Linked DNA regions of Homo sapiens. The protein of the gene in region 2 interacts with the protein of the main gene of each other region in a pairwise test. Each region holds a gene or a part of one and is shown on either strand. Other genes may lie near its edges. The genes, in order: CDCA7L, ABT1 and MAB21L3.

What was found.
Region 1: the proteins of ABT1 (region 2) and CDCA7L interact in binary tests that used the Homo sapiens proteins (3 or more experiments, as listed by UniProt).
Region 3: the proteins of ABT1 (region 2) and MAB21L3 interact in binary tests that used the Homo sapiens proteins (3 or more experiments, as listed by UniProt).

Annotation. Positions count from the first base shown.
Region 1 is NC_000007.14:21,906,572-21,916,515, forward strand, and holds part of CDCA7L (cell division cycle-associated 7-like protein), read right to left. Parts: intron 5,184-9,944; coding exon 5,046-5,183; intron 1,937-5,045; coding exon 1,559-1,936; intron 69-1,558; coding exon 1-68. UniProt on the Homo sapiens protein: Plays a role in transcriptional regulation as a repressor that inhibits monoamine oxidase A (MAOA) activity and gene expression by binding to the promoter.
Region 2 is NC_000006.12:26,590,971-26,601,561, reverse strand, and holds ABT1 (activator of basal transcription 1), read right to left. Parts: upstream 4,610-10,591; 5' UTR 4,580-4,609; coding exon 4,339-4,579; intron 3,649-4,338; coding exon 3,452-3,648; intron 3,298-3,451; coding exon 2,917-3,297; 3' UTR 823-2,916; downstream 1-822.
Region 3 is NC_000001.11:116,112,317-116,122,260, reverse strand, and holds part of MAB21L3 (protein mab-21-like 3), read right to left. Parts: intron 9,855-9,944; 5' UTR 9,646-9,854; coding exon 9,598-9,645; intron 1,330-9,597; coding exon 1,189-1,329; intron 942-1,188; exon of another isoform or gene 903-941; intron 131-902; exon of another isoform or gene 46-130; intron 1-45.

The DNA.
Region 1 (9,944 bases), on a different chromosome or scaffold from region 2:
GCTGAGGTTGGGGTTCGTACTGGGAAGAAATCTGGCATCGAGTTCAATTCCGCCAATAACTGGGCAAGCTGAAGTTCAGAACAAAAGAAAGAATCTTACAAAAATAGGGCTCCAGGTTTAGGTCATCCAACACCTATCTCAAGTCTTCCATTTTGCCACCATAAGAAACCTAACTTGAATAGTTTATATAACCCACAACAGTTATACTTTTAACCTCACATGTAAAGATTGTACCTCCAGACCTGAGATGCTGATGTCATCATTCATATGAATGAACACTAGCCTATTCCTTATATATAAGGACAACACAACACTATGAAAACAGTCCTGGAATGATCAAGACCTGGAGCATGAGGTTCCGATCCCGACTCGGAGGCTAATCCAAGGCGGTGTGACCCTGGGACAATTCATTTTGCACACGTGAGTCTCAAGTTTCAGGATGTTCAAAAAAGAAAAAGCTCAACTAGATTATTTCGATGGTTATTTAGAACTCCAAAAGTCTGATTCTTTAAATAGATTAATTTCTCATCAATCAAAGTAATCTATGAAGATATTCCTACGTGAACTAATAATACCAAATAATAGGCATTAATATGCCAGAGAATTTAATTAGGATTCGTTTTAGTTTATACAATTATATGAGTGCCACCAAAAAAATCATAAAGAAAATAGCTTATTTTAAAGATGCAGATGGATACAGTGCTGAAAATTTCCCTTAGCTAAGTAAAAATGTTTCTTAGGATAAAAATAATCCGAAAGTAGGCATTCCATTTTTGTAAGTAATTTATATTAGACATATAAGCTTGCATATACAGTATCACTGCATCATTCTTTTTTTAAAAGGAAAAGATTAAAAAATTACCAAAATGCTAAAAGGGATAAGTGGTAGAACTATTTAAAAAAAAACTGTAGATAAACAATTATGAAGCAAACAATGATTCTCTACAATGATCAGATTAACAGTAATTGATTATATACAGAAAAACCAAATATATGTAACAAAGATTTCACCTGGTTCCATTCATTGTTCTAATGAAGACAATGTAGAGTGAATTAACACTGTTGAGGTTGTTTTAATTCCTAGACCTCTTCCATTCCTTCAGAAGTCTCAGAACCAGTGCTGGTCACCATAGAAGAGTGGTTCTGTGGTGAAAAGCTACCTGCCCAACCTGCTCCTTGCAACTTCTCAGTGGACTTGGTGACATCCCACTTCCCCTGCTTTACTCTGCTGGGAACGGGCTAGTTGTTCAGCCCCTCTCATCCCCAACACAACTATATACTTAGAACTTAGCTTGGTCAACAGTAAGCAGCATTATGGCACCATGTAGGGGCTAAAAATGGTGCTGGGGAATCTCTTTCTGTTCCCAAACCAGAGCTGATCATGTAATAGTTGCTCTGGGTTCTGGAAAAGTAAAAGGATACACAATACCCAGAGTATATTTTCTTGACAGAAGCCAAAGCAACAGCAGCAGCTGTAGGAGCAAAGTGGTTCTGGGAGCCCAGCAACTGCTGCCAGAGCCTGGTGCCAACTCCCAGGACGCCCTCCGTGAAGCCTCACCATGGCTTTGTTCTCCTTGATGTTCATGGTCCTTTTCAGCAAAGCATCTGAACTCTCCTGGCTCTCATCCCGAGAGTCATCCTCAGACTCAGAGGTAGAATCTTCCCTTTGTATCACCTGTCTACAGTCTTTCTTTCTTTCAAGAATTGTTTTTTTCTCATTCTGTAAGCGTGCGCTAGAAAACAACTGCTCGGAAGAACTGTTTTTATCTGGTTTGTTGGCCAGCTTCTTGGTGGGGAACTGAAAGGCTACTCGAAGACCAATACTACTTCTTCTAGACCTGCTTCTTCTAGGGGTAGCCTTATCTTCTTCTTCATCTTCCTCTTCCTCGCTCACCAAAGATGCTTTGCCATCATCACTCAAATCTGACTCCACGACCTAATAAAATAAGAGCAAGAAAAAGCACAAAGACACTGTTACAGACCCACAAAAAAGACATGCATTTAAAACAACTGACAGCATTATGAGAAAAAACATGAAAAATGAAAAGCTTCCCCTTCATATTATGAGTTCCCTCTGAATTTCCTTTAAATGTGCAAGAAATTGGTTGATGAATAAAATCAGAGAGCAGGCAACCTACTACTGAACTGTGCACCATCATACCCGCGACAGAAATGGGTTCCATTCAGAGCATGAGGGCTGTAAGCAAAACACTGACAGGGTGGGTTCCTCCACCGTGGGACAACCAGGGAGCACCAGCAAGAGGAGAGACAGTCACAGAAAAGGAGAGACAGCAGCATGACAGATGTGATCTTCAGACAGGAAAGGACGCAACGGGGGAAAAATGCTGACTGGTCTCCTCTAAATAGCAGGAACCAGACTCCTGAATAACAGGGCGGGAGAGCTGACTGCACCTCAGGGCAGTGACCCAGGACAGGCAGATGACCTGCCACTGCGTCCTCAGTCAAGGGGCACCTTTCCCTTCTCTGGAACCCTCAGAGCCATGAGGTGAAACCAGGTCACAAAGCTCTACAGGTTGTAGCAAAACACCACTCAGTCAACTCAAGAAATCCTCACCCGACATTTTCAAATTCCACATGGCAGAGGTCTCCAGCATTCAAACATTGCTCTGTTTTACAAGTGAGAACACAGTAAATATGGAAGGCAGTAACAGGGATACATCACCTAGGTGACAGCTTGGATGTGACGGGACTCTTAGCAGTGGTACAGAGACAGGTTTAAGTATGTAAGATCTAGGACGTCTTCTGGGCATCCTTCCATGACCAGAAGCTAGAAAACTTTGGGAACCATTATCTGGGAATTCTGAAAATCTACCAAGAACACGGAATGGCACCGATACGGACCCAGGATCAGTTCAGGGACTCTGCTTCCTCCCCGGTGACGACCATCAACCCCAAACTCTCGTTGGACTAAAGTTAGAAATAAGACACAGGGAGAAAAAAAACGCAGATAACTGCCAACCCTGGTATATCCACACCAAGCCAAGTGAGGAGTAAGACTATATGGCACTGATTTATCTATTTTTTAATACCCTGAACTTCCCATATTAATAGCTTCAGAATTCAAAATGGTGTACTGCAAAGGAACCCAATTTCAGGGGACACTGTCAGGGAAGAACTTCAGTTTTGATCCATTTATCTACCATCCTCATCATCGACAGGCCTCTCTTTACCAGATGTGGAACAGCTCACTACAGAGGCCTGAAGGAAGGAAAGAACAAATGGTACACAGCAGCCCAGAATCAGACCCAAGAGAAGAGCACAAGTGTAGTACATGGATGTGGTTATTTCGCATCCGGCCAGCAGACCCCTGGAAACCAAGTTACAGCAATGTCCCATTATCAAGAAAGATAGGTTCGCCAGTTCCCACAGGGGTGGGCAGGAGGGTGGGCTGGGAGGCAACAATGCTTTTCTTCTCACTGGATTCTAAAATAAAATTTGCAAGGGCCTGTGCTGAACTGTAAGCTATATCATGATCTATGTAACTACATCACACAGTCCATAGACTTGGGGGCAGGTGGGAGGGAAGACTTCTGGGGTAATTCACTTTCTCTCACTAGAAATGCAAATGCTTCGAATAACCAGACATCACTTCACTAAAGAACAGAAAATAAGTACATTGCTAACTGATGATGCCCATTAGGGTTTTAGAAGCATCTTAATATCGTGCTGGCAAGAAGCTAGGGACTTGCTGGCCAGAACTGATGGAACTGCCACACAAACAGCTTCTGCAAAGAAAGCCAAAGGAGACCTGGGGCCTCCAGGCTGGCACAGCTCTATGTTGCTACTCATAGCAAAAAATCACTATCAAACGAAGCAGCCTACCATGCGGGCTTTTATGCTCTACATTCTCTCCTAGGACAAGTGAGGGACATGGCAGGCTAGGAGTCACGGCTTATTTATACCTCTACACAGTCTCTGCCAAAAGTTAGTCTTTAGCAGCTTCTGGCTGTGAAGAGGCGTAAACTCTACGTTCCATCTTCATACTGAAGAAGATAGTAGCATGTTTATTTTTTGCATAAATGTATGCTATTTTTAGCAGAAAACATTTCTGCACTTAAATCCGAAGGCTGTGCCTTAAAGTTACCTTCAGGTTCAAACACGAGTGGGCAGTAAACTAGCCTAACTGTGCAGGATAAAACAAACAAATAACTAACAAGTCTGTTCATAGGAAGTGCTGAGAGTAGACTTCCCTCCAGAATCCAGGCAGGCCTGGGTCATCTTTAACACTAAAAAGCATGACAAATCCAAATCCACAATGCATGGGGAACACCAAGTTTGTACCACAGCCAAATTTTTGCCAAATTAACTTCAAACCAAAAACTGTCACTTCACACACAGTAAGAAAGTATCTCAAGAAAGTTGTCATCTAAGATAAACTTTTAGATAAAAGAGGTTTAAGGAACTCTTGAGATAATTTTTTTTTTTTTTTTTTTTTTTTTTTTTTTTTTTTTTTTTGAGATGGAGTCTCGCTCTGTCACCCAGGCTGGAGTGCAGTGGCTCAATCTCAGCTCACTGCAACCTCTGCCTCCCGGCTTCAAGAAATCCTCCTGCCTCCGCCTCCCGAGTAGCTTGGATTACAGGTGCCCGCCACCACGCCCGGCTAATTTTTGTATTTTGAGGAGAGATGGGGTTTCACCATATCGGTGAGGCTGGTCTTGAACTCCTGACCTCAGGTCCACCCGCCTCGGCCTCCCAAAGTGCTGGGATTACAGGTATGAGCCACCGTGCCTGGCCAAGAGAGATAAATTCTTTGAGAAGGACAATAAAGGACGCCTGGGACACATCCCCAAAAACCCCCTAAGGCACGAGGAGAAGATGAATGGATTTTCTCTAAGAGAATAATGGACTGGTGGACCAGGGATTAGCCTTCCAGGAGCAATTTTTTTAGGTTATGTTAATTGCTTGTAAGATAAATATGTAAGAAAAATCTTTTCACTTGTGAAGTGACTGCTTACAAGTAAAACTCTTTCAGAAACAGGATTAAAAACGTTACCACCCACATCCCTTCCTGTTGTAATTATTACCATTACTTCTGGGTTAGTCTTTCCATTCAGATCACTCTGCGTAAATCCTGCAAAATCCTCAGTCTCTGAGTCAGTGTCCTCTATAAAAATTCTTCTTAGCTCTTCTGTGAAGTATTTGGAATGAAAGCGCACATCCTGCTAAATTAAAGACACACATACATCAGAGACGGAAAGTAGAATAGAGGTTACCAGGGAAGGGTAGAATGAGGAGCTACTGAACGGGTACAGAGCTTCTGATGGAGATGACGAAAATGGATGGACAACAATGTGAATGTACTTAATGCACTGAACTGTACACATCAAAAACAGCTGAAATGATATACTTCATGTTATGTGTATTTTACCACAAAAAAAAAAAAACACTGGCCGGGTACAGTGGCTCACCCTGTAATCCCAGCACTTTGGGAGACCGAGGCAGGCAGATCACTTGAACTCAGGAGTTCAAGACCAGCCTGAGCAACATAGTGAGACCTCATCTCTGCAAAAAATACAAAAATTAGCTGGGTCTGGTGGCATGTACCTGTAGTCCCAGCTACTTGGGAGGCTAAGGTGGGAGGATTACCCAACCCTGGGAGGTCGAGGCTGCAGTGAGCTGCACACCAATGCACTCCAGCCTGCGTTGCAGCCAAGATCACACCATTGCACTCCAGCCGGGTGACAGAGTGAGACCCTCTCTCAAAAAAACCCGCATACGTACACGTATATATTACATATATACACATTTTCTAAAGCTTACAAAATTCAGACCTACAAGACAGACAATTTTTAAAAATTGGGTGTAGTCTCAATCAGCTTCTAATGTGACTGGTAAGTGCTCATGGAATTCAGCTTCTCCTGCCAAAGCTGGCAACCAGACACGTCTGCTTTCACATAGAACCAAAACACATGGAAAGAAGATATGAGGAGAAAACCTGGCTCCCTCCCACGTGTTGGCTTCCCTTTCCAACAGCCTTTCAAAGCCGGAGTCTCCTCCAAGTGGGTGAGCATGCCTCCCATTCACCAACAGCGAGCTTCTCTGTAGGAAAAGGCTGGGGCCTCTCTCAGCCCCCACCGCCCACCACCAGAGAGCCTAGACTTGCTCCATGAGCAGACACCATGGGGGCCTGATGGAAAGCTCATTCAAGGTCACCCCCAGGAATTTCTCTCGTGCAGGAGGTGAGAGGTGAACAACCATGGCTAGGTGGCAAGTGAGCAGAAGGAAAGATGCAATGTGACTCTTTAAGAAAAGGCATTTTCTAATACTTTTTCTTTTGAAATAGTGCAAAGATGGAAACCCAACTCTCTTAATAGTATACTTGAAAGAAAGAGGAAATAACAAACTGCAGGCCAAAGGGAGACCCACGAGACCAGCCCCCTGCAAGCCCGCCACACCTCATCAAGACTAGAGTCTGTCCCCAGTTTCCTCTGACGTCTCTTCCCCCCATCTCTGATATAGCAATGACCCCTTGTAACACCACACTTGGCGGGGAATCTGTATCTACCCCACTGCGTTTCCCCGCCTTTAATTATATACTTCTTTGAGCTCATATATCTCTGGGGAAAGATAGATATAATAGACAAGTGGAAAAACTTACAGGGGCACACAGAAAGAAATGCCTACATCTAGCATTCTGTAAGCTTAAAAATGTCTCCTATGAATTATTATGGGTAATTGGAGTGAGTTTGCTCAGAGCTGAATTACTTTGTTCCTTTGTTGATAGCTGTAGTGCAGCTGCTTGAGAAAAAAAATTGCACACACAAAAGGGAAGTTTCTTTAAAGTGAAATTCAAATCGTGTTTAAGGGAGACCAGAGTTAGCATACACATACTGTGTGCAAGTTCATGCAGCTTCTCTCTATTGGTTAAAATGGATCATGAGCCTGTGGGGTCGGGGTAGAGAAGCAGCCAGGGCTTGATTATTAAGGAAGAATGGTACACAGCTGCTGCTAAGGAAACCCACCATGCACCTGAGGCCTCTCAGTGCAAGAAACATCTGGCTCACAGAGCCTTGGGCCAGCCCCTGCAGGCTAATTTAGAGTGGTATTTCTGTGTGCAAATTTCATCAACTACCTAAAGCCCCTGCCTAGGGCCTGAAGGGAACAGGGCAAGCCTTGAAGCTATGAGTTCCCATCTTCCAGTTTTTCTGGCTATTTTGATCCTGTGTGCTGGCCTCCCAGGGCAATGGGCATCTTGGGAGAGATTACCATCTTTGATGGTCAGTCCTGATAGAGAAAAACAACTTACCATTGTCCTGAACTGAGGCCTGTGCTTTAGTTTCCTTACTCCAAAGTGTGTAAGTACTGTTTTCCATGTGGGTCTGTATGATGCCAATCTCCACTCCACACTGCTCCACTGCATTCTGAGTTAGAAACCCTGGCACTGCTGATTGCTCTCTGGCACTGGTTCATTCATCTTCAAAATCAATACTGGGTGCTATGCTATAGGCCTTGGTCATCTACCATGATCAGGACCATAAGCAAATAACACATCAGAGGAGAAGCTAACATAGGTGGATAAACTTATTTTGAAGTCCATGTGACATGGAAGAAACAGACCAGAGAGCAATGGCCTGTTGAACCAGACAGCCAGACAAGCACCCCATTTCAACTGCACCCAGCAAACAACACCCCCCGTGCTCACTGTATACAGTCAGGTGGGGTGTTGGATGCTTGAAATCAGAGGAAAGGAACAATACATGAGGACGAAAAGTCAGAGCCAGGGAAGCTAGAAAGCACCATTCAAGTATGAGGTCTCCCCTTCTTAAGGAGTTTATAATCTAACAGGGAGGCAGACAGGTCCACGAATAACCCTGGTGAGGGTCAGTGCTCTAAGGGATACAAAGCAATATGGCACACGGAGGGAAAGAAAATCCAGTAAGACTTCATGGAAGAAGTAGCATAACTGGATGTGAGCCACGGTAGAGGCTAGAAAAATGGTGAGAGCACAGATAGGCAGGAACAGCATGGACCAGTGGGCAGAAAGGGCAGAACAGTGGATAATGAGAGTGTCAGTTCAGTTCCTGTGCCCTGCAGCATAGCAGGTAGGAAAGAGACCCGGCGGGGTAAGAGGCTGAGAAGTGGTGGCCCTGGATTTGGAACATCCCAGCTTGGTACTTCCCAGATGTGGGGCCTTGGGCAAGTCATTACACCTTCCTGAACGTCAGTTTCATCACTTGCAAAACTGCAGCTTCCCAGGGAGGTCTGTGGATTAAATGCAGTATCTGTATGAAAAGCAGTTGGCACACTGTCCTCCCTGGGGAGAACACACCTGACTACAAAAGGAGTCATCATAGCAGCAGAAGCAGCTGTTCTGTTTCTTAATGCCCGGTGCCTGCCAGGCTCTGTGCTCGGCCCTTTAGACATGTTCTGCCTTGCTCAAATGCTCCTCAAGGTGGATCCAACAGGCTCTGCTCTCCCCACCGCCTGACTGTGCTCAGATGGAGGGCTAAGGGAGGAGCTGACCGGAGGTCAATCCTATAACAGATCCTAGTAGGAAGGGATGAGCATTCGGGTAAGAGCTACGAGGGCTACGGCAGCTGCAGAGGGAAGGGAAGGATGGACACCAGGAACACAGCAGAAGTTTCATCAACTCCTGGACGGGAGTCAAGGAGATGGAAGAGGGGAGGGAAGGCCAAGAACAAAAGATGGAAATCAAGATGGGGAAAGGGGGAAGCCAGAAAGACAACCAAGGGAAGGAGAAGTGAGTTTCAGATCTCCCTTAGCAACCAGGACCAGTCCAACTGGTAGTCAGAAACCACCTGGGGCTGGAGAGAGAAGACAAGCTCCACAAAAGAATACAGTAACAGCTCAAAGCAGGACAACAGACAAGATTCACTAAGTGAGAAGACTGAAGACAAACCCTTAGAGAACATCTGCATTTAGGGACACGAACAGGGAAAACAAGTGACAGTAACAAAAAGCAGGCCAGGTACAGTGGCTCACGCCTCTAATTCCAGCACTTTCGGAGGCCAAGGCGGGCAGATCACCTGAGGTCGGGAGTTTGAGACCAGCCTGGCCAATATGGCAAAACCCCATCACTACTAAAAAAAAAAAAAAAAAAAAAAAACACACACACACACACAAATTAGCCAGGCGTGGTGGTGGGAGCCTGTAATCCCAGCTACTCGGGAGGCTGAGGCTGGGAAAATTGCTTGAACCCGGGAGGCAGAAGTTGCAGTGAGCCAAGATCATGCCACTGCACTCCAGCCTGGGTGACACAATGATACTCCATCTTGGAAAGAAAGAAAATAATAATAACAAAGAGCAAAAGGTGTAACAGAGAGGAAGAAACCCAGGTGGTTAGAAGGAGGTCTACTGGTGGGGTCAACTGCTGTGGAGATGCCAAATGAGATGAGGACGACAGAGACCAGGGAGCCTCCAGAGATCTCAGAAAGCACAGCTCCCACCAGGCCAGAACTTACAGTGGCCCACGTAATTAAGCAGGCACTTCACTTACATATAATTAACTGCTTCCCTTCCTGGACTTGCCCAGTGGAAGCAAAGTGGGTTTAATTTGCTGCCTTTTTGGAGAGGCCATGGTCAAGGCAGAATGAGGAATTTTGAGTGCCACAATTAACTCAGAAGAAAATGCCACTGAAGGGTAGAGATTTTGGCCATTCTACTACTAGGACACAATGTGAACCTCCAGGAATCTACCTGTCAGAGAACTCTAACTTGTGAGTGCTAGAGATCAAAGTAATTAACGCAAGAATAAGGCTCTCCCCAGCAATTCCAAGAGGACATGCCAACAGAATTGCACCACGGGACCACAGAGGTGTAATTGTCTCCCCGTAACCACACAATCCCTCATGCCTCGCCGCAGCCTCGCCTCTGTGGGAAGACCCTGAACACAGCCTCGCCACAGGTTACAGCCCCAAGGCAGCCAAGAAAATGCACTTGATCATGTGAGGTCCCTTTATTTA
Region 2 (10,591 bases):
CTACAGTGAGACAGGATCATGCCACTACACTCCAGCCTGGGTGACAAAGTGAGACCCTGTCTCAAAAAATAAAAGGGGGGTGGGCAGGGACCAGCAGATCTAATACTGGATCTTAAGCAATTCACTAAAATTCACATTAAGCCTCCTGGGAACTGAGCATGTCCCTAGACTTCCACCAAAGGATTTTCCCCTCATAATTCTACTGTAATATAACAAGATAAATGCAGGGAGAAAGGTTTTATAAGGAATCACAAAAAAAAAGGAATTTGAGAGTAGCTGTAAATACGACTTTTGAACATTTTTAGGGCAGGGCGTGGTGGCTCATGCCTGTAATCCCAGTACTTTGGGAGGCTGAGGCGGGAGGATCGCTTGAGCCCAGGAGCTCAAGGCCAGCCTGAGCAACATAGAGAGACCCTGTCTCTGAAAAAAAAAAAGAGAGAGAAAGCTTTTAGGCACCCAGACATACCCTATTAAAGCCCTCTTACTCTACCAGGAGTCCCACCTCAACTTATTTGGAAAGAAATCAGCCCACTCCATTGCCATCAAATGCAGAGTCCCAGCTTCTCAGTCAGGAGTGAAACTAAGTTGAATCAGAGTATACACTACAACCACAGGATCATGACTGAGAATTATTACTCAGTTTGCTACTCTTGGTGCTAGATAAAATAAATCCACTCATATTGGCAGGTACACTTCATTCTCTAGTCTATAACATGTGCATTTCTCATGAATTTCCTGTAATAAGCATTCACCATATGCACACTGGGAAAAGCTGGGGAAAAGGTGAGGAACAAAGGATAAAATATTAAGAGGCAAATTGAGTCATCTCTCTGAGCTCAGTTTTAATGGGGGGATAACAATATTATATAGTTGTGGATTAAATGAGTTACTTCATATAAAAAAACAAGTGCTGTTTAAATAGAAACAAAATTGTGGATGTAAAAAATTATTTTCCTACACTCAATGGGCTTAAAGTCAAGATGAAAGTTCCTAGGATATTTTCTTCCACCCATTTATTCTCATTCCTCACTCCACCTGTGACTTACTTAGCTTGCCTGGCCGCAGGTGTGAGCTCTTTGTACAGAACTGTTTTGGAGATGGACCCTGAAATACCAGCCCTTGAACATACTGTTATCTAACGCTGTCCACCGTGGGAATGCAATTTATTTCTTCATTCAAGAAAGTCTTAAATAAAACCCCAGTATGTCTACTGTACTTTCTAAGCTGTTAGCAACTAGAGGGAAAGTTTCTTCTTCACCTTGGTATCTCTTTATCTAGCAGAAGTAGCAATGGGCACTTGGAATTCTGAATAAATGAATATGCCAGCCTGTCAAATTCTGATTCTGGATTTTTCTGTTTCACTTTAAGACATCAATGATCTGAGGAAACAATTCACATGAAACAAACCCACAAGAATTAAAAACAGAAACAAGACGAAAGTTTCTAAATGGAAACGTAGTTTGTGTGCCAAGTATAAGAGGTATGTGGGTTGTGAGAAATGTTATACCAGCTTTACCGTATGGTCCTTTTTATTCTCCCCAGTAAAGTGCACCTGTCAAGATCATAATGTGATTAGGGTATTTTACAGCCAAAGTAGACAAATCCACTCTACCCTATAAAACACAGATCATCACATTGACAGATGAAAAACAAAAACAAACAGCACAAGCAAACAGAAATTATAATCATACTCTATCACTTCATGCAACAGCCTGGAAAATGATCAGAATTTTGGTCTACGTGAGACTGTGTAGACTGTTTATTGTGACACCTAGGTTTTCAGTTCCTTTTAGTGGCTTACACTGATTCTTTGAAGCCTACAGGGCTGCTTTGCCTCAGCCCCACCATATGTAAGTGCACCTGAGGTGCACTGGTTCTCTACTAGGCTTTGCCCACCTTTACAATGGTTCCAACTCAACACTCCACCCAGGAAGCATTCTTTGTAATTGTGGGAGCACTCCACACTCTTTCAGACTTATTATTCTCCCAGTTTACTTTGTAGGAATGATCTGGAAAACTTGGTGAGGACTGACTCACCACTGAAGACTGTGATCATCAATCAGGTTCCCATTGAGAGGACTCTATGACCTGCCATGGCTCCCATTCCACCCTTTATATGCATCTACCACGATGCCTATCTTATACTAGTGGCCTGTAAAACTCTTAATACTAAGATGTGTTATTACCTATTGTCACTGTTTCCTCAAACAATGGCTTAGAAAATGCTGACTTAAGATAACTGATTGATAAACTGGGCTAAGATATTAGACAAAAATTAAATAGAAAAAAAAATCCAGGTTAAACAGTAAGGTGGGTGGCAGGGGGAGGGGGGCTCTAAGATCAGGATATGAAGGTGAAGGGAACACAAGATGAAAGTTGGAACTTGTCCAATGACCTCCCCACCAACAAAAATAAAAAGGCACATAAAAATATTTTTATTTTCTATAAATACATTAGGAAATGTATTTCTTCCCAACCCAGTCCACCCCATTAACTCAATTTTTTCTACATAAAAAAGATGCTAATACCACCCTCACCTGTGACTGCTAAACAGAGAAAGATTGCCTGGACTAGGCATTATCCTCCTAGTTGGAAATAAAGGCCCTTTCTGGGGGCAGGAAGTGGGATTTTCAGGGGACCCTACAGACGTAGGCAGCCAAGAGTCAAACAAAACAAGCATATGCAATAGTCATAATTATGCTAGTATGACAGTATGAATTAGGTGACTCAGCCAGGCACATACAGGAGTTCGGAGTGGGGACAGTGGAAGCCCACAAAACTCCATGTTTGGGCCATCAGTAGACACTTGGTCTGAGAAACACAGTAAAATGTCTGCCCGGGTAGTCACGATCATTCTAGTATGAGGTAGACAGGAAGCAGAGCAGGGCCAGGAAATGGAAGGGGCCACCCAGGCCCTCAGGAGTCCCTGACAAGGGAAGGTCCCTCCATGCTCTCTGAGGGTGGCGGGGCTCCAAAGATCCTGGCCAGGAGCCCTTTGTTGGAGCGGGCCTTGTCCTGGGCAGTTGCCAGGCGAGCCCGTTCACGTCCCCCTGGCCGTGCTGCTTTACGGGCCCTCAGTTCCTGCTCAGTAGGACGCTGGGCAAATGTCCAGGAGCCATCTGGGCGAGCAGGGTCCCCATCGGCCGCAAGAAAGCGTTGTCCCCGTTCCACACTTTGAAGATAGAAGTCGGTCTCACGCTTGGCTTGAGCAACCTCCGCTCTCAAGCGCTGCCTGCGCACCTGGCGCTCAAAGGCGAGGTGCTCGCTGAGGTGGGACCAGGTGAAACGGTGCAAGTACTGTGGGCAGAAAAGAAGAAAAGATCAGGATAGTGCAGATTAGGGAGAAAGATGAGACAAGGGGACAAGGCCAATGAGAGGCCATGGGGATACTTGGGCCAGAGTTGGGGAGAAGGGAGGGTGAGAGGTGTGGCAGAAAGATCTATCTTCTCACCTTGAGGTTCCAAAGATCATAACGGAAGGGGCTGCGCCTGCGGGCACCCATAGGCGTGTTGTGTAGACTGGCCGCCACGCGCTTGGCTATGCGCTTGTCACGGAACTCCACCCATCCCTCGGTGTAGTCCTTGGTGTAGGACCGCTTTTTTCCTCCGGCAGCTGCTGCTGCCTTCTTCTTGCGTCTCACGAACCGGTCTGCGCGCCAAAGACAAAGACCCGTCCAGGACGCCTATGCAGCACTCACTCAAAAGCACCTCCCACTGCCCGCAACGTTCTTCACATCTGCCAGTGGGAGTCCCACCTGAAGAGTTTTTGCCCAGGAGGAAGGGAACTGTAAATCGCACCCTTTCCTCTAGCTAACTCAATTCTTTCCTTAATTGTCCACTCCTTAATCTGGCCAGCCCTGAACGCTGCTTAAAACCGGCACAAGTCCTCAGCCTCAATGTAAAATTGAGGGTGGAAAGAAGAGGGGCGGTTGATCAAATAGTTTCTTGACCTAGGCAGCAATGCTAAAGAGTTATGTTCAGTTTTGTAGAAAAGCTGACGAGACTTTTACTCAGGTTGTATTCATGTAACAAACCAGTAAACAGGTCCGGAAAGAGAGGTGAACAGAGCCGGGATAAGAACACAAATAGTAACAATCCGAGAACTAAAGAACCACCAGACACACTGCGCTACCCACTCTCCCCATATCCCCTCCGCCCGCCCACCCCAGCATCCTCACAGACTGATTCACCAGCCAGGAGCCAAGCACCGCACTCCCCACCCCCAAAATCCAGCAACTCGTGCCTCAGCCTCGCGCAGCGAAGCAACAGGACATGCATGCTTGCACCCCGCCAGCGAGCGACAACCTCCTCCTGTCACCGTCAGGGCCTGCATACTTACCCTCAGCCTGAAAGAAGACGCGTCCGACCTCGCCATAGGCGCTGAGAAGGTTGCGGACGTGCAGGGGCCGGAAGCGCGGCGGGATATGGCCCAGGTACACAATACCTGGCACTACCCGTTTCTTGCTGCCACAGGCCGCTTCTTCGGATTCCTCCTGCTCCTCCTCCGCATCTAGTGTCTGTTCTGTCCCTTCCAGCGGCTCTTGCTCCGTTGCGGCCTTCTCCGATTCCTCTGCCTCCATGTTGACTGACACGAGCGGCACGACGGCCGTAAAGTGCCTTGCCAACTGACGCAAAACGCGTGCGACGGCCTGAGACGAGGGGGCGGGTCCAAGGTGGTGATGACAAATGAAAGGAAATGATTGGGCAATACAGTCGGGTCCAGGGGAAGGCCGAGGGGAGAGGGAGGAAGTGGTGTGTCAGGTCGGAAGCCTGATTCAGAGCGTGGAAGCGGGATGGGAAACTTGGGTTAGGCTCAGATTCCCGGTCAGATCTCCAACTCAGGACAGGCAGAACCAGAAAAGGCAGATCCCCAAATATAACCTACCCTATAGAACGCCTTGTCGAGACGCTAAAAGGCGGGTTGATGCCGGCTTTTTAGGGAATTTTGCAGAACAATTTTAGAGAAGTTTCTATGTGTTCTAGCGATCAAAATAGCATTTTATTCAAGGGCCCCGGGTGCGATTCCAGCTGAGGAATGACTCACCTTTTAAAGTTTATAAATTTCATTTAAAAATTTTGAGTTTTGAGGTTTTAACTATTTCTGGAAATTTACCTCGGAATTTTGAATATTTTAAAATTTAATTTTGAAAACAGTTCAACTTTGGAAATTTAATTAGATTTAATTTTTGAAAATTTAAGTTGTGAACTTTCAGTTTAATATTTTACATTTGATTTTGTGAATGTCTGAAAATTTAAATGTGTGACAATTATTTGAAGAATTTGTTTGGCATCTATTACACGTGTGTATTGATACATTATCCATATGCATACTTATGTTGCAAATACTTGTCAGAGGCGCACAAGCCTCCAATTCTGGCGACCCCCCGGCGGCGCGCTTATTTCTGCTCTCCCTGGGTCTGTCCTCAGATTCCCTATCAGATCACAAACCACTTTTCCTTCTATGACCTACGCAACCGCAGAACGGACCGGGCCACGGCGGTCCTGCTCCCACCAGGCGGCCTGCGGACCATCCCTAAGCCAAGCTCAGGGCAGTTTTCCCCGCGCGGGCTCGGGTCCTCAGTCTCTTATCGTCGCCCGAGGGCGCGACCAGCAGGGGGCGCCGTCCCCACCCTTGAGGCGTTTCAGTTCTTCCCATCGGCGCCAGCGACAAGCTGACTGCAAAGGACAGTGCTGGGAACCGCGTACAAGTAATCCGGTTAGCTTTCTGGAAGCAGCCCGGGGCGAGTTTGATGACTATCAACATAAATCCGTCCTTGCTGCGGCCTGACAAAATTTCCCATCTCGCTCCAAGAGCGCAGAGTAGCCCAGAGAATGGAAGCAGGGAGTAAATGTGTCCACTATTAAAATCAGAGATGACAGTTTTTGCCAGTCCCCAAGTATATTTCTAAAGTAACAGGGCCCTGCACTCTTTCATGGAGTGTCTAAAAGTCTAATAATAGACTTCTCGAATTCAAACACGCCTGTTTCATTAACTTTATTGAAGAGAACTTTCTGTCAGGTAGGTGTCCACTGCTCCTTTTTTGAAGAGGAGCGGGGTACGATGAGAGCGATAAACTCCGTCTACTGCTATTTAATTATAAACACTGACATCTTCAAAACACAGTACAGTTAATGAAATGAGAACACGTGTTGGGGTGGCTTTAAAAGATCTGGAGCTAGGGGAGGGGCATGATGGATGCAAGAGTGTCGGTAAGTTGTGCCAGTGTGGTGGCTAATGGTAGCTATTAGCTATTTTCTCTACTTTGTATATATTTGAAATTATCATTAATAAAATGTTTATTCACACCAAGTATCAATATAACAGGGGGTGCTAAAGGACCGTGAAACCGACAAAAAAAAAAAAATGAAGCCTTGGGGCAGCGTGTTCTTCCCGTTCCCCACATTCCTCATGATCCCTTCTCAACTTGGTGAAAATCGAGTCCCACTCAACTGTCTGTGAAGCAACCCTTGTTAGCAATTTTCAGGGTGGATTATTTTCCTTCTCTGAGCGTCTTACAAATTCCTGAATAAGCAAGCTGCACATGCGTTCTCCAAGTTTCCTTATTTCAGGCCCAGAAGAGACACTTTTAAAAATGGAACTCCTCCGAGCCGGATTCGAACCAGCGACCTAAGGATGACCACATTCAAACCCCTACAGTCCTCCGCTCTACCAGCTGAGCTATCGAAGGATGTCATTACCCTCGTTTTGGATTCTTTAGGATTTACCTATTGCTTTTGACTATCCTGTATTCTTGTTCATTTTGAAAATATAGGGAAACGTGAGGAAATTTTCTAGGATATTAGAAATGTTCCAAAATGTTCTAAAATGTTCTTATCTGAGTAGGGATACTGACTATACAAGTATATGAACAATTCTCTTGAACATTTAAAATTTGTGGGTTTTACTGTAAAAATGTTTCACATAGGTCCAAAAAAATAAAAAATAAACAAAACCACACCAATATTCCATGTCCTCCTCCCTTAGAATAGATAGGACCATTGCCCTTATTGCGCGTGTTGTCCAGCTGTCCTGTCCGCTTAGCACCTCCTCTCTCTATAGGAAGTAAATAATAAAGACAAGGTTATTTTAGACAACTGGGTTGAAGAGGGGGGACCTACCGCCTTGAAGCGAAGTTACTGCCCAGTTCATTTCGGAAACATTGAGATTCTCCTTTCTGAAGGGCAAGGAAAATTACACAATTTGTATAATTTGTAATTTGTGTTCGAGACACAAAACAGAAGTGCGTTGTGTGTGTACATATGTTTAGGAATTGAGCGGCTCATATGATATTGCACAATTGTAATGGGACAAGTAAATGAAACACAACACTTCTCTCTCCCCCTACAATTTAAAAAAGAAATATAGCATTCTATTTACAGGTGTCAACCTAAATAACAAAGAGAAGCTCTCTGAAAGAAAATGATGTTTATTTGGGAATAGAGCATTGCAATGAAAATACGAGTGCCATAGGAAACTATGTATATTCAGGGAGGTAAAGGAAGACAAAGGTGTTTGTTTGTTTGTTTTTGAGTTGGAGTCTGGCTCTGTCGCCCAGGCTGGAGTGCAATGGCGCAATCTCGGCTCACTGCAACCTCCGCCTTCCGGGTTCAAGCAATTCTCCTGCCTCAGCCTCCCGGAGTAGCTGGAATTACAGATGCCCGCCACCACGCCCGGCTAATTGTTGTATTTTTAGTAGAGACGGGGTTTCACCATATTGGCCAGGCTGGTCTCGAACTCCTGACCTCATGATCCGCCCACCTGACCTCATGATCCAGAATATAAAGTGCTGGGATTACAGGCGTGAGCCACCGAGCTCAGCGACAAAGATTTGTAAGGGAAAAAATGAGAAGGATTATATAACTGTGTTGAGGTAATTATTGTCTGCTACAAAAATGGATAGCAAAGAGGAAGCTAGTCCGAGGTTGGACAGGCAGTTGTGGGGCAGATGTCCTTGTAGAAGTATTTTTTGTGTAAGATTGTGATGGCCTGTGCAAGATTGTGGTTTTTGCAGTCTTTTGTGATAGTTTTTGTTATCAAGCATGGCCTTTTCCAGCTCTATTAATTAGCGTTTTTAGTTTGTTTTGTGTGTTTGTGTGTTTTAACAATAGTGACTCCATTTTGATTCTGACAGTTTTCACAAAGGTATGCTGTCATGCTTTGCTAATAAGTACCTATCATGGTATTCAGCTTCCTCGTGCCTAAAACAGAAATGAACACCAATGGGAAGAACGGGAAGGCATCTGGAGAGACTTTTCTTTTTTATAAAATTATTAGAAGTATATGGAAATTATAAATTGTGAAATTTATGGAAAGGAGTGTTGGTGAATTTATTTATAAAAGATCATCACTTATTACAGTTAAAGTTCTCCATAATTGTAATCTTGACAAAAATACGGTTTTTTTTTTCAAAAGATCCTCTCCAGCGTTTCCCATGAGAAATATCTGCAGCAACATAACTAATATTTAATTCAGTTATTCAATTCATTGCCATGAGAAACTAAGAATATATGGTCTGGTAAATTCCTTTCCAATAATGTAACCTAGTCGGGGAAAATACGAGAAGCCAGAGAAGAGAAATGAGCAGATTCTTATGAGATGGTCTCTGCCCATATGAAGTGTACTAACTGAGCCTTGGACACCAGATGTGAAAGCAGTTGACCAACCCTGCCATTTCACCACCAAACCCCAGGATCTCAGTTCACATGCTTTCTCGAATAAAAGCTTCACTAATTTTCACAGGGGGCAGCAAACATACAGAAAAAAATGCTCAGTATGTTTCTCATCAGTTACTGCTATGCTCAGGAGCTCCCAGAGCCTCCTGACTCTCAGTGACACGGTACTATAGAGTTGATTTTGATCAGGAAGAACTCCAATAGCTAATCTCATCAATTATTTTCTTTACCTATAAACTAATCTTAGCATAAGAATCACACCTCAGGGCTGTTAAAGTTGGAATTTCATTTGCCTGAAATGCTCTTTCCCCTGATAATCCCCAATATTTGCCTCCTGGGAATACAAGAACAAGTAATTAGTACCTTTCCGCACTAGATTTCTGTATCACTTTGAGGGAAGACTTCCTTCTTCCTCTTCTTACAGAATCTGGTGTCAGAACGGCCATTCTATTTATTCCCTCTTGTTGCAGACACAAGTTCAAAATGGGTTTATGGCTAAATCTAACTATCTGAAATAATTCTTGGAAATGTATCATCATCACTTGATTACAATCTCACCCTGTAGCTTCTCTATTGTTTTAGCACCTTTTCAACTTGCGAATTGAGTCCTACCTAGATGGTTTTAACTTCTCTTGAAGCTTACAGACCACTATAATATTCCTATGGAATAAAAAGGAACAAACTATTGGTAAACGTAACAACAGGGATGAAACTCATCTGCATTATGCTGAATTTACAAAGCCAGATACAAAATGCTACATACTATATTATTCCTATGAAATTCTTGCAAGGGCAAAGCTATAGGGACAGAAAATATCCTTAGTTGCTACTGGGGTAGAAGATAGGGGAGAAATTAAGTATAAAAGAAACATAGTGATTCAGTAAGAACAAAATAGAAAAAGAAGAAGAGGAAGAAGAAGGAGAAGGAGAGGAGGAGGAGGAAGAGGAGGAGAAAGAAAGAAGGAAGAAAGAAGAAGAAGAAACAACTTCTTTCTTCTTTCCTCCTGGGAGGCTAGGCCTGGTGTCATGCCTGTAATGGCTTGAGCCCAGGAGTTCCAGCCTGCAGTAAGCTATGATGGAAGAACTGCACTCCAGCCTGGGTAACAGAGCATGACCCTGTCTATTAAAAAAAAAAAAAAAAGAAGAAGAAGAAGGAGAAGGAGAAGAAGAAGAAGGAGGAGGAAAAGAAGAAGAAACATGCAGAAATTTGGGGGTAGAGTGATATTATTATTCCATATCTTGATTGTAATGGTGATAACACGACTGTCTATATTTGACAAAATTTGCTACACTAAGGAGAATGTACATTAAAACTGATGACATTACTGTATGTGAATTGTACCTTAATCTAAAAAATGGGAAGAGTAACTTTCAAAGAATTAAAGAAGAAAAGAAAAGTGTAGCTTAGAATTTAATTTTGAAATCAATGTAATCAGTGTAATTACTTTATTATCAGACTAAACAGGAAAAGCCATATGATTATTCCAGTAGGTGTAGAAAAAAGCAATTGACAAAATTCAGATACATTTGTTAGAATTTCTGCAAAGTATAAAAGACATATTTAAGAATTCAACAGCTAATATATTTAGTGATGAAAAACTCAAATGTTTTGGCCCTAACATCAGGTCCAGAGCAAGGATGTCCACTCTCACAACTTCTATTCAGCATTATCCTAGAGATTCTAGCCAGTGCAATAACACAAGAGAAAGAAAAAAATACAGATTAAAAGGAAAAAGTGAGACTATCTTTATTTGCATGTAACATTATTGTCTACGAGAAAATACTGAGGAAACTTCTACAAAGCTACTACAACTAATGAGTAAGCTTACCAAAACTGCAGGACACAAATATAATAAATTGTAATTCTATTTATTAATAGATTGTATTTGTTAACAATAAATAGTTAGAAATTGAAATAC
Region 3 (9,944 bases), on a different chromosome or scaffold from region 2:
ATTTTCACCCTGGGATTAATTTCCTACAATCTGAGTCTGTTTCAGAATCCACAAATCCCAGAATCTCTTAGGTGGTTCCTGCGTCCACCAACCTTGAGATGTAATGGGCCAGCAATGGTCTTTTGCTCAGGTACTAATTCTTTTACTCATTCATTTATTCATTCATTCCACATATGTTAAGTGTCTACCATGTGCCACATACCATGCTGGGTGCTAGGAACAAAACGAATAGTAAACTTGGTCCTTACAATCGAGGGATGTGCAGTCTGTTGTGAGAAATGGGCCATGAATACATACAAATTTAATACAAAGTGAAAGAGGTAGGTGGCATAATAAAAATCGAGATAAAGAATAATGGAGATTCAGAATGATTCAGGATCTCACTTCTCTTACCTCTAAAATGGAAATGAACAGATTGTCTTTTCCACAAGGTGGTTTACAGGTTTAAGTAAGGTCGTTTCTCTGTGTACAGCTCTGCCCTCACTACTGTGTTGCCTGAATGCTGGTGTTACCCATTGGCTTACACTGGGTGGGATTCTTTAGCAGGGAGAGGGGTTGCCAGTCTGCTCCTGCAGCTTCTCAGTGGCACCTCTTCTACTTTCTTCCTTCCCCATCTGCAACCCACAGACTGACTTTCAACTGTCTTCTTATGGATGCCCTCAGTTCCCTCCACCCCACCCCCAATCTATTAAGTAGGTGCTTAATAAATGAATGTGTATTTAACTGAGCTTTGATTGTGACAGCGGAATGTGCTTTGGAATCAAAAGCCTCTGTGTGAGTTCTGGCTTTAGTGCCTGATATGACTTGATCAAGTCATTTGACTTCTCTGAGCCTAGTTTTTCTCATCTAGGAATGTGGGGGCTCAAAGGAAATAACATCTATCTTTTTTTCTTTTTCTATAGAGACAGAATCTCACTACATTGCCCAGGCTGGTCTCAAACTCTTGGCCTCAAGCCATCCTCCCACCTTGGCCTCCCAAAGAGCTGGGATTATAGGCATAAGGCACCCTGCTGGCTGAAATGACATGTATAAAATGAGACTGTAAATAGTAAAAACTAAGAATACCTATGAAAACAAGAATTGTTATGAGTATTCTGAGTGAGGCAAGCATCTGTCACACACTGAGATTCACCTGCCCAAGTGTCCTGGCTCTGTTGGTGGCACTTAGAGACAGCAAGACTTGCTTACCTTAATATTTTCATTGTACGTGTCAGAGTAAGGCACAGCTTGAAATCTAATGTCTTGGTTGCTGATGTTTGTGGTCAAATGATGAACGACTTTCTGCACCTCCTCCACAGCCTGGGAAATCTGCTGGCGCCTCAAGTCCACCTGGGTGTGAGAGGGACCAGCAATGGTGGTTATTTCCTCTGTGGGCCCCAAGATACCAGCATAAGAGAGTGAGGAGACAAGGGTACAGCAAGGGGTGACTGAGGGAGTTCAGCTCAAAAATCCTGCCTTCCCAAGATGCCGGGGAGATGAATTTAGGTCTGACTCCATTGAGAAGACACTTGGTGGTGCCTCAATGTTCTTTTCTGTAACAGATGCATTCATTTGATATTTATCTAGGACCTACTATGTAGCAGGTGCCAGGCTGGGTGCTGGGGACACAACAGTGATTAAGACAACAGTGAACAATGTAGATACTTGCCCTCTAGCTGAAAATATAGGAATAAATGTAGATATAATACATACTATATTATATATAATTGTAATGTATAATATCAATATTATAATATATAGTGTCATATCTGATATTATACACACAGACACACATATAAATGTGTATATATATGTATTCCTGTATATATATATGTGTGTGTGTGTGTGTTTGTGTGTGTGTGTGTGTGTGTGTGTGTGTATAATGTAATATCAAGTATGATAAGTCCCATGAAGAAAAATAAAATATGATAAGGGACTAGAGAATAAAGGGGCAGCTATTTTAGTTAGGGTGGGCAATGGACAAAGAAGACTTCTCTAAAGAGGTGACATTTGAGTGAGGCTGAAGACAGCTTAGGAGAGCAGATTCCATGTTCCTCCTCTGACGTAGGCAATGCTCTAAGGCTAGCAGTGAGGCCATTGTGGTTGGATCTGGCAAAAGGAAAGTGATAGGAGGTGAGTTTGGAAAGGAAAGCAGGGACCAGATCATCACACAGGGTTTTGTGAACCATGGTGAGACTCTACCATGGTATTGTCACGCCTGCTGCCCATGGTGTGAATATTAAACCACTTAACTTGTATCAGCACCCAGCAGCCTGCTTCCCACTGATGTCATCAGTAAATGATGGTTCTCTTTGCCTCCGTACTCACCCCTGCCTTTTGCTTCTAGACCCTTAAGAAAAGGCATGTTTCTGCTGACAGAAAGTTACCACAGTGAGTTATGAAGAATTGGGAAATTCTCATAGAAAACTCAACACTAATCAGATACTTAAAGTTTAGGGAAATAGATGTTTGTGGGAAACACAAAGGAACTTTTAGTAAACTCCAGAAGAGACACAGAAAAATCCAAATAAGATACGGAAGGGTCTGCAAGTTTTTTCTGAAATGGAGGGGGCACTTTGTCATCTTGCTCAGGAGGCACCTACAAGCTGCTGTCATGACAGCAAGACTCTCCTTCAGAGGCTCCTTCAGCCAGGGGCCAGTTTCAAGCAATATCTGATACATCTCAATCTAATGCCCATCTATGAATCTTTATACTCTCTCTGAATTTGGTATAATGGCTGTTTCTACATATTCTAGAGTCATTTTGAGACACCCATAAACTGATCACGACAGCCAGAAAAAAAAAGTCCAAGTCAAAGAGATTCCTGTTTTCCTAAACTAAGTCATCAACTAGGCCAGTCACCTGAGACCTCACTCATACTTCTCATCAACCAGCAAGCCAACTTCATATGTTCATAGTATAAGAATGTGACTGTGCACCTATTGTTAGACACGTTGTATATCACATATAGGGTCAGTTCATCAGTAAGTATTTGTTTAGCATGTCCTCTGTGGTGGGCACTGTTACATGCTGGAACACAGCAATGCACAAGATAGACCCGGCCATGCATTCACAGTAGTGAGGAAGACAAATGTAAGCACAGAATACAATTGTGGGATGCTATTATGGGAAAAATAACAAATGACAAAAATAAAGGTTTTAGAAGCCAAAACTTAAGGGTCCTCTCCAGCATAGGACTTCCCATCTGTGTTGTGATTCAATTCCATTTGAGTAATTTGAGTGGAACATCCATTTTATGCTGTGCTTTGTGCATACATGTTGCCACGAGGTTTATAGATAACTTGACAAAGCAAGACAGATGACCTGGAAATTAAAATCACTGCAATCTAGTGCAAGGTAGAGGTTTGCACAGATGCTATGGATACATAGAAAACGGATACTTCATCCAGTTTGGAGGTTGGGAGGCCTTTCTGGAGGCACAGTGTGTTGGAGTTGTATCTTGAAAGCTTACTAGGCGTTAGCTAGGAAAAAGGGGGCATGAAAGTTGTTCTAGAATGAGAAAATAGCAGGTATTGAGCCAGGCCTGAGGCGCACAAAGAGAGAATTTGTGCTCCTCATGCCTGTGCAATTGTTCCTGTGATATTTTTAGAACACAATTGCCCTAGAAGAGGTGGTGAAGTGGGAGAATAAACCGTGAGAGGTCCTGAAAGTAAAGGAAGAATTTCAAGAACAAAGTCAACAGTAAGTGCTTGAGTGAGTTAAGGCCCCCAAATGTCCATGGAGTCTGACAGCTAGAATAGGATTGCTGCATTGGGGGAACACTGGGCACTAGCATTAATGGTGGGGAAGAGGTGCACATTAAATGTGGATTAAGGGTGAATGGAAGAAAACCAAGTGAAGACAGAGGTAAGCAACTCCTCCAAGAATTTTTTTTTTTTTTTGATGGATTCTCGCTCTGTCGCCAGGCTGGAGTGCAGTGGTGTGACCTTGGCTCACTGCAAACTCTGCCTCCTCGGTTCAAGTGATTGTCCTGCCTCAGCCTCCCGAGTAGCTGGGACTACAGGCACGTGCCACCACACCTGGCTAATTTTTGTATTTTTAGTAGAGACGGGGTTTCACCATGTTAGCTAGGATGGTGTCAATCTCCTGACCTCTTGCTGTGCCCACCTTGGCCTCCCAAAGTGCTGGGATTACAGGTGTGAGCCACCGTGCCTGGCCCCAAGAACTTTTACCATGGGGAAAACCAAAACAACAGGGATGCGAACAGTTTTTTTTTTCCTTGCAAAATGACACACAGGTGTAAACATGTTTAAATGCTGAGAGAAAAGAGTCAGTGGTGAAAGAAGAGGTAGCAGAGAGCAAAACCAGTTTGTAAGGATTTCCCACCCAAAAGGAGTCATGCACATCCAGAGGCCTGAGTGAGGAATTCATCTTGGTGTGGCAGAAAGAAAGAAGGGGAAAAGGGTGCATGCAGATACAGATAAAAGGGTAGGGGGCAGTGAAAATCAGAGAGATTTCCAGTCTGACGTCTATGTTCTTTATAGAGTGGGAGATGTTAATGAGCTAAGAGTGAAGTGGAAGGCAAGAGATTTCAGGCGATAGACTGCTGAGATAGCTGCTATAAGGAATGAGAGACTGTTTAGGTGCATGAGTAAAGATAACCAGACAGTGTCAAGACTTGGCTGAGGCTGAGTCCCTGAGGCTGTGGGATATCAGTAAGTTCAGTTAGTGAGATCTGCTCCACCACCTCTTAGCCCTCCAAAGGTAAGAGTTGAGGTGCTAAGATTGGAGTTTGCTGGGCAAGAGATGGATAAAGATAAAAAAGCAACAGAGGGTTTCAGCAGTGGGCTATATCTTCCAGCCGGAATAAAGAACGGATAAAGCTAGTGGTAGAATAGGGAACATTAGGCCACTTCAGGGACCTGAAGTCTGAGCAGGTACAGTGGAGAAAAGTAATAAAAGTGTTAATTAGATAGAACATTGCAGGCAGAGTGGTTGAGAAATAGTATTCTCTAATAGTTAAGTTCTCAGAACGTGTTGAAGGCCAAGACTAGCCTCCTGAATCTGCCAGCCCCACGGATGTAATTCCATAGAACTTGAATGTTAGTAACATAGCAGTGACTATACATATATATATATATATATATATATATATATGTATGTATATTTTGATTCCTGAGTTAATAAACTAATGAAAAATTCATCACCATCAAATCATTTTTAAATAGAAGCTTAAGAGTGTGTGTGCATGTGTGTATGTATGTACATGTGTGTATGTATGCACATAACACACGTGAAGAGTAGCCTATTGGAAAAAGTACTTCATTGTAAATCTATTCTACAAATTGTGCCCTCATTTGATGGTGAAATTCTTACCGAGCAGGACAAGATCACGCACTCCTGGAAAACAACTATAATCTCTCACTTGTTACACAGGTTATTAGTTCACCCTTATGACCTGTTTTGATTACCAAAGGTGAAAGTCAGAATAAGATAATGCTTTTTGAGACCTAGAACCACAAATTCCAGTTTTAATTTTCTTCCTCCATCACTTCTGCTGCAACTTAGATTCAGGATCTTAGAAATGGAAGAGACCTCAGAAATTGCCTCGTCTGGTGTGACTTTATGGAGGACCAGAGTGACAAGGCAGCTTTCCTAACATCACACCGGCAGTTAGATGTAGAATTAGACAGGCTCTCCAACACTTCTTTCCATCACACTTTGCCACACCCTTAAGTACTGATGTACCAGAAGTACGGCCTACCCTTTATCCTCTTCCTGAACCTAAAAATGCCTTCAATTTAAAGTCAAGACTCATGAAATAAGGAGTCCTAGGTCTCCATGTATTTAGGCATCAGCAACTGTTCTGGCATCTAACAAGCACAAAGGGTCATGCAGCAAGGGCCAGACAGTGATGCTCCTGCTGTGGGACCTGAGCAGAAGCCTCTTTCTCTAGGTGGCGGGCAGCCTTGTCCCTCCCCACATCTCTGGCTACACTTCCTGCAATAAGTTCTTACCCACACAGCATCACCGTGCTATTTGGTAGCCCCAGAAGTGATTTGTGCTGGGGGTTTCCAGGCTTAGTGCCAGACACCTCTTGTCACCCTCATGGTGTGACAACACAGAACCCCCAGACTGTTTCTCTCCACTTATTCTGGCCACACCCTAGACAGATACAGCAAGAAGTTCATTTCAGGGTGTGGAAAAGCAGGCAGTGGGGTTGGGGCAGCTGTACAGTGATCTAAAGAAGGAGGCTCTAACACAAGTAGACACCCATTGCAAGCCCAACCCTGGAAATCCTTTACTGCCTCTCAAACTTTAGGAAGCCAGCAAGATACCAGTTGCAGCTTCAAGGCAGCCTTGAGGCAACCTTGTCACCAAACTTAGTTCATGGCAAAACATGGAAACAAATGTTGTTTGGGCCTTGCTCTTCCCAGGCATGTCTCCATGCTGTCAAGGTCCTTGTCCCATCTTGGGCTGCTTTCCCCTCCTCCTCCTTAACCACAGCATCAGGTTCATTGTTGCCCCACAAGTCATTTGCTGCTATTAATAGCTCAAGTTCATGAATAATTTACTGCTTCAAATATAAATTATGGGGATTTAAGGTTATCCCCTATAATAATATCACTCTGACTCACTTGCATTCCGATACGCTTCCTTGCAATGGAGACAGAGTGGTGGTGCTAAGTAGCATGCCAGGAATGTCACACAGGCCTGATCACACCCATGACCATGCAGACTATGTGTATGTCATTCCCAATGAGTGTTACTGAGAAGAAAAGGCTGAGGACTTCCTTCCAGAAAACAAGAAGTCAGACCTTTAATTCCAGAATTGCATGAAATCCAATCATCAGTTAGAAAAATTTCAACAAAACAAAAACTGGCATCATCTCTGTCTTTCAGGGGCTAATAATGTAAAGAAATGGAAAGTTAAATCCAGTGATAGATACGCACGAGACCATAGGCTTTCCACCATCATATCCCTTCCTTTGTAGACTAATTCTTCCATGAATCAAATGCTTGGGTCACGCAGAATATTTGCAGCCCCCAAATGTAGCAGAAGCTGTAGCAGCAGCATTACCGTGAAACTAAGATTATTTAGTCCTTCCTGTGTGCAAGGCATTTTATAAGAGTAGGCTCATTCCTGCCTACCCATCATTCTTTAAGGTGGATGCTATGATTATCCCCATTTTATAGATGAGGAAACCAAAGTTCAGAATATTTAAGTAATTTGCCCAGGTTCCCAAAGTTAGTAAGTTACAGAACACAGGTAGCAGCCTTCCAAAGCCCATATTTGTAACCACTGCCCTGTTCTGCTCCCCAAAAGAAAAAGGTGACTGGGAATGAAATACACCTTGAATGTTTGAACGGGGTTCCCTTAGCCTGGAAGACCTTTCCTATACTTCTCCACTTATTAAAACCCTACACTTCCTCCAAGGCTTTGTCTCTACTCTTCTTTCTGTAAGACACCTTTCCCATCACAACTAATGCACCGTGCTCCTCCAGCAATCTGTTGAAATCTCTACTGCATCCCTTACGGTCTACCATGCATTCTATTAAGCACTTGCCTGACTGCATGTGAAATTCCCTCCTTCTTCCTTTGGGGTTATGTACAAAATCTGCAGATGGGACAGGGCTATCCTAGAGACCAAAACCAAAATTTCTCTTTCATTTAGCAGGCCACATCTCAGGCCTTGGTCTACCCTCAAACCGTAGCACAGTATTTTGCACAAAGCAGGTGCTTAGTATGTGTTTGCAGAGATATAGAGGAGTTTGGCAGAGGACGTTCGGCCTTTGGAGTAAAGAAGACAAGGCTGAAACTTCAGTACCCTCTCAATTTAGCTGTGTAACTTTGGACAAGTTATTTAATCTCCACAAGCCTCTGTTTCCTCCTCTAAAAATGGAGGCAATATGTACATCACATAGTTGTTGATTAGGTTAAATGAGATCCTGTATGCACCTTGACCTGTCGCCTTCCACACCACTCTTGCCTTTAACGAACTCTAAAGATATTTCTGATCATATATGTGCAAGATACTCTGAATGTCAAAGGAAAGAAAGGTATGCAAGACACTGTTCTTCCCTCCAGAAACTTATAAAGAATGAAATGATATGACATGTAAGTTGCCAACCAAGATGATAATAGAAAAGTGTCAGGAGTTAATATACAAACTCATGATCAAATAAATGGTGCCAGTAATACTAATTATAACGGGAGTGAATATGTGGGCAAAATCATTTTGTGCTGGGGTGTCAGGGACTCTTTCTTGAGAAAGTGGACTCTGAGTTTGAAGGATGAATATGAGCCAGAAAAGTGGCGAGGAGGAGCTGGGGCCCTTGGCCTGCTCAGGGCCCAGTTCTTGTTGGGCAGAAATGGGAGACTCAACCACCTACAGGAATGGAGTAGGGGACACACGTGAGAGAGGCAGCGGGGACCAGGAGCAAGTGTCAGACACAGGATCAGCCTCCTGAGAATTGGCCAGCACGTGCTCTGGCTAGCAAACACTCAGCCCCAGCACACAGTTTCCAGGCAAGAAACTGGGACCTGTAGTTGCGAAATATTCTGATTTTTTTCCCCTGGAAAGACAGAAATCTGGATTTCTATGCAAAATCTATTTTGAAATGTTTGTGAAAAACATTAGAAATAATCTACAGGCCAAACAAAACATGAGCACACACTGGATTCAACGTGTCGAACACTGTTTAGGATTTCTGCTATTGGAAATGCAGGGGGAGCGGAGGGTAGAAAGATAGAGCAGTTGAAGTTACTTGAACACCACACTAAAAAGTTTGGAGTTTTTTCTTACAAAAAATACAGGACCCACGAAAAAAATGCCAGCCAATATCTCTTCCACTTAGAGCCCTCAAAGGGAGGAATTAATGGGAAATCACTTTGTTTACTCTAGTTTTTATCATCCCAGGTTTTCCTTATTTATCTCTCTTAATGGTTTTGCCTAAGAAATACATTTTACTTATCACTATGATAATGATCTTCTCTTTCGAACTTGTAAAGGCATGAAAACTGCAGACCAGTGCCTACTTCTTAGTCAATTTAAATATTTTGGTTTTAACATTAACATCATGCCTTAGTAGCTTCATCCGTAAATGAAAAGGCTTAAACTAGGTAATATTTAAGTTTCCTTCAAGTTCTAACATTTGACATGACCATCTAGACCATCTAGAAGAAATTAAGTTCTTAACTGATGTGTACTAAAAATATAATAATATTTAAAAACCTAGTACTTTCACAGTCTTTAAAAAGCTTTGTTTTAATTTCATTAGCTCTTTTTCCATTACCCCATGAAGCTCCTATTATTATTCCCATTTTACAGAGAAGAAGGCCAAGGCTCAGGCAGGTTAAGTGACTCACAACCACACGAGTGTCAGTGGCAGAGCTGGAGTTCCCCCTCATTCCCCAGATTCCTACTCTCCATTCTATATTCTATACTCAGCATGTCTCTGGGTACCAGACCCTCAAAGAGAAGTAAGGCTGATATATGTTAAGCCCCCAAACATTGTTATAGGTGACAGTCTGTTTTCTGAGGAGCATTTTATGTGTCTTTAGAAAGAGCCTGAGATCCTTTCTGGACGAAGGTTTGTTTGGAAGTAGTGTGAATGGGGAGGGGGTTCATGGGAGAGACCGGGTCTGTCCTTACCTTATTCAGTAGGCAATCTTCTAAGTCTCCCACAGTAAGGTATTTCATGGCTTCTTGGTCAGTCCTCAGTAGAACAGCAACTTCCTGGTTTTTTTTTTTTTCTCAATGGAGTGCAACACTTGTGAGTAGATAGCACTCCCAGTAATGTGAGTCTCTGGGTACTAAGTTTTTCTGGAAGTGTGTAATGGACCAGAGACTTGCCTTCCGAACCCTTCACTCATGTTTTTATTTCCAAATTGTGAAAATCCATCTGTCATCTTTTGGGAAATTAAAAAAAAAAGAATTTAAAAAGAAGAGTTGATAAAATTGAATTTGAGTCCAACCTAATCATACCTTAGTTAGCTACA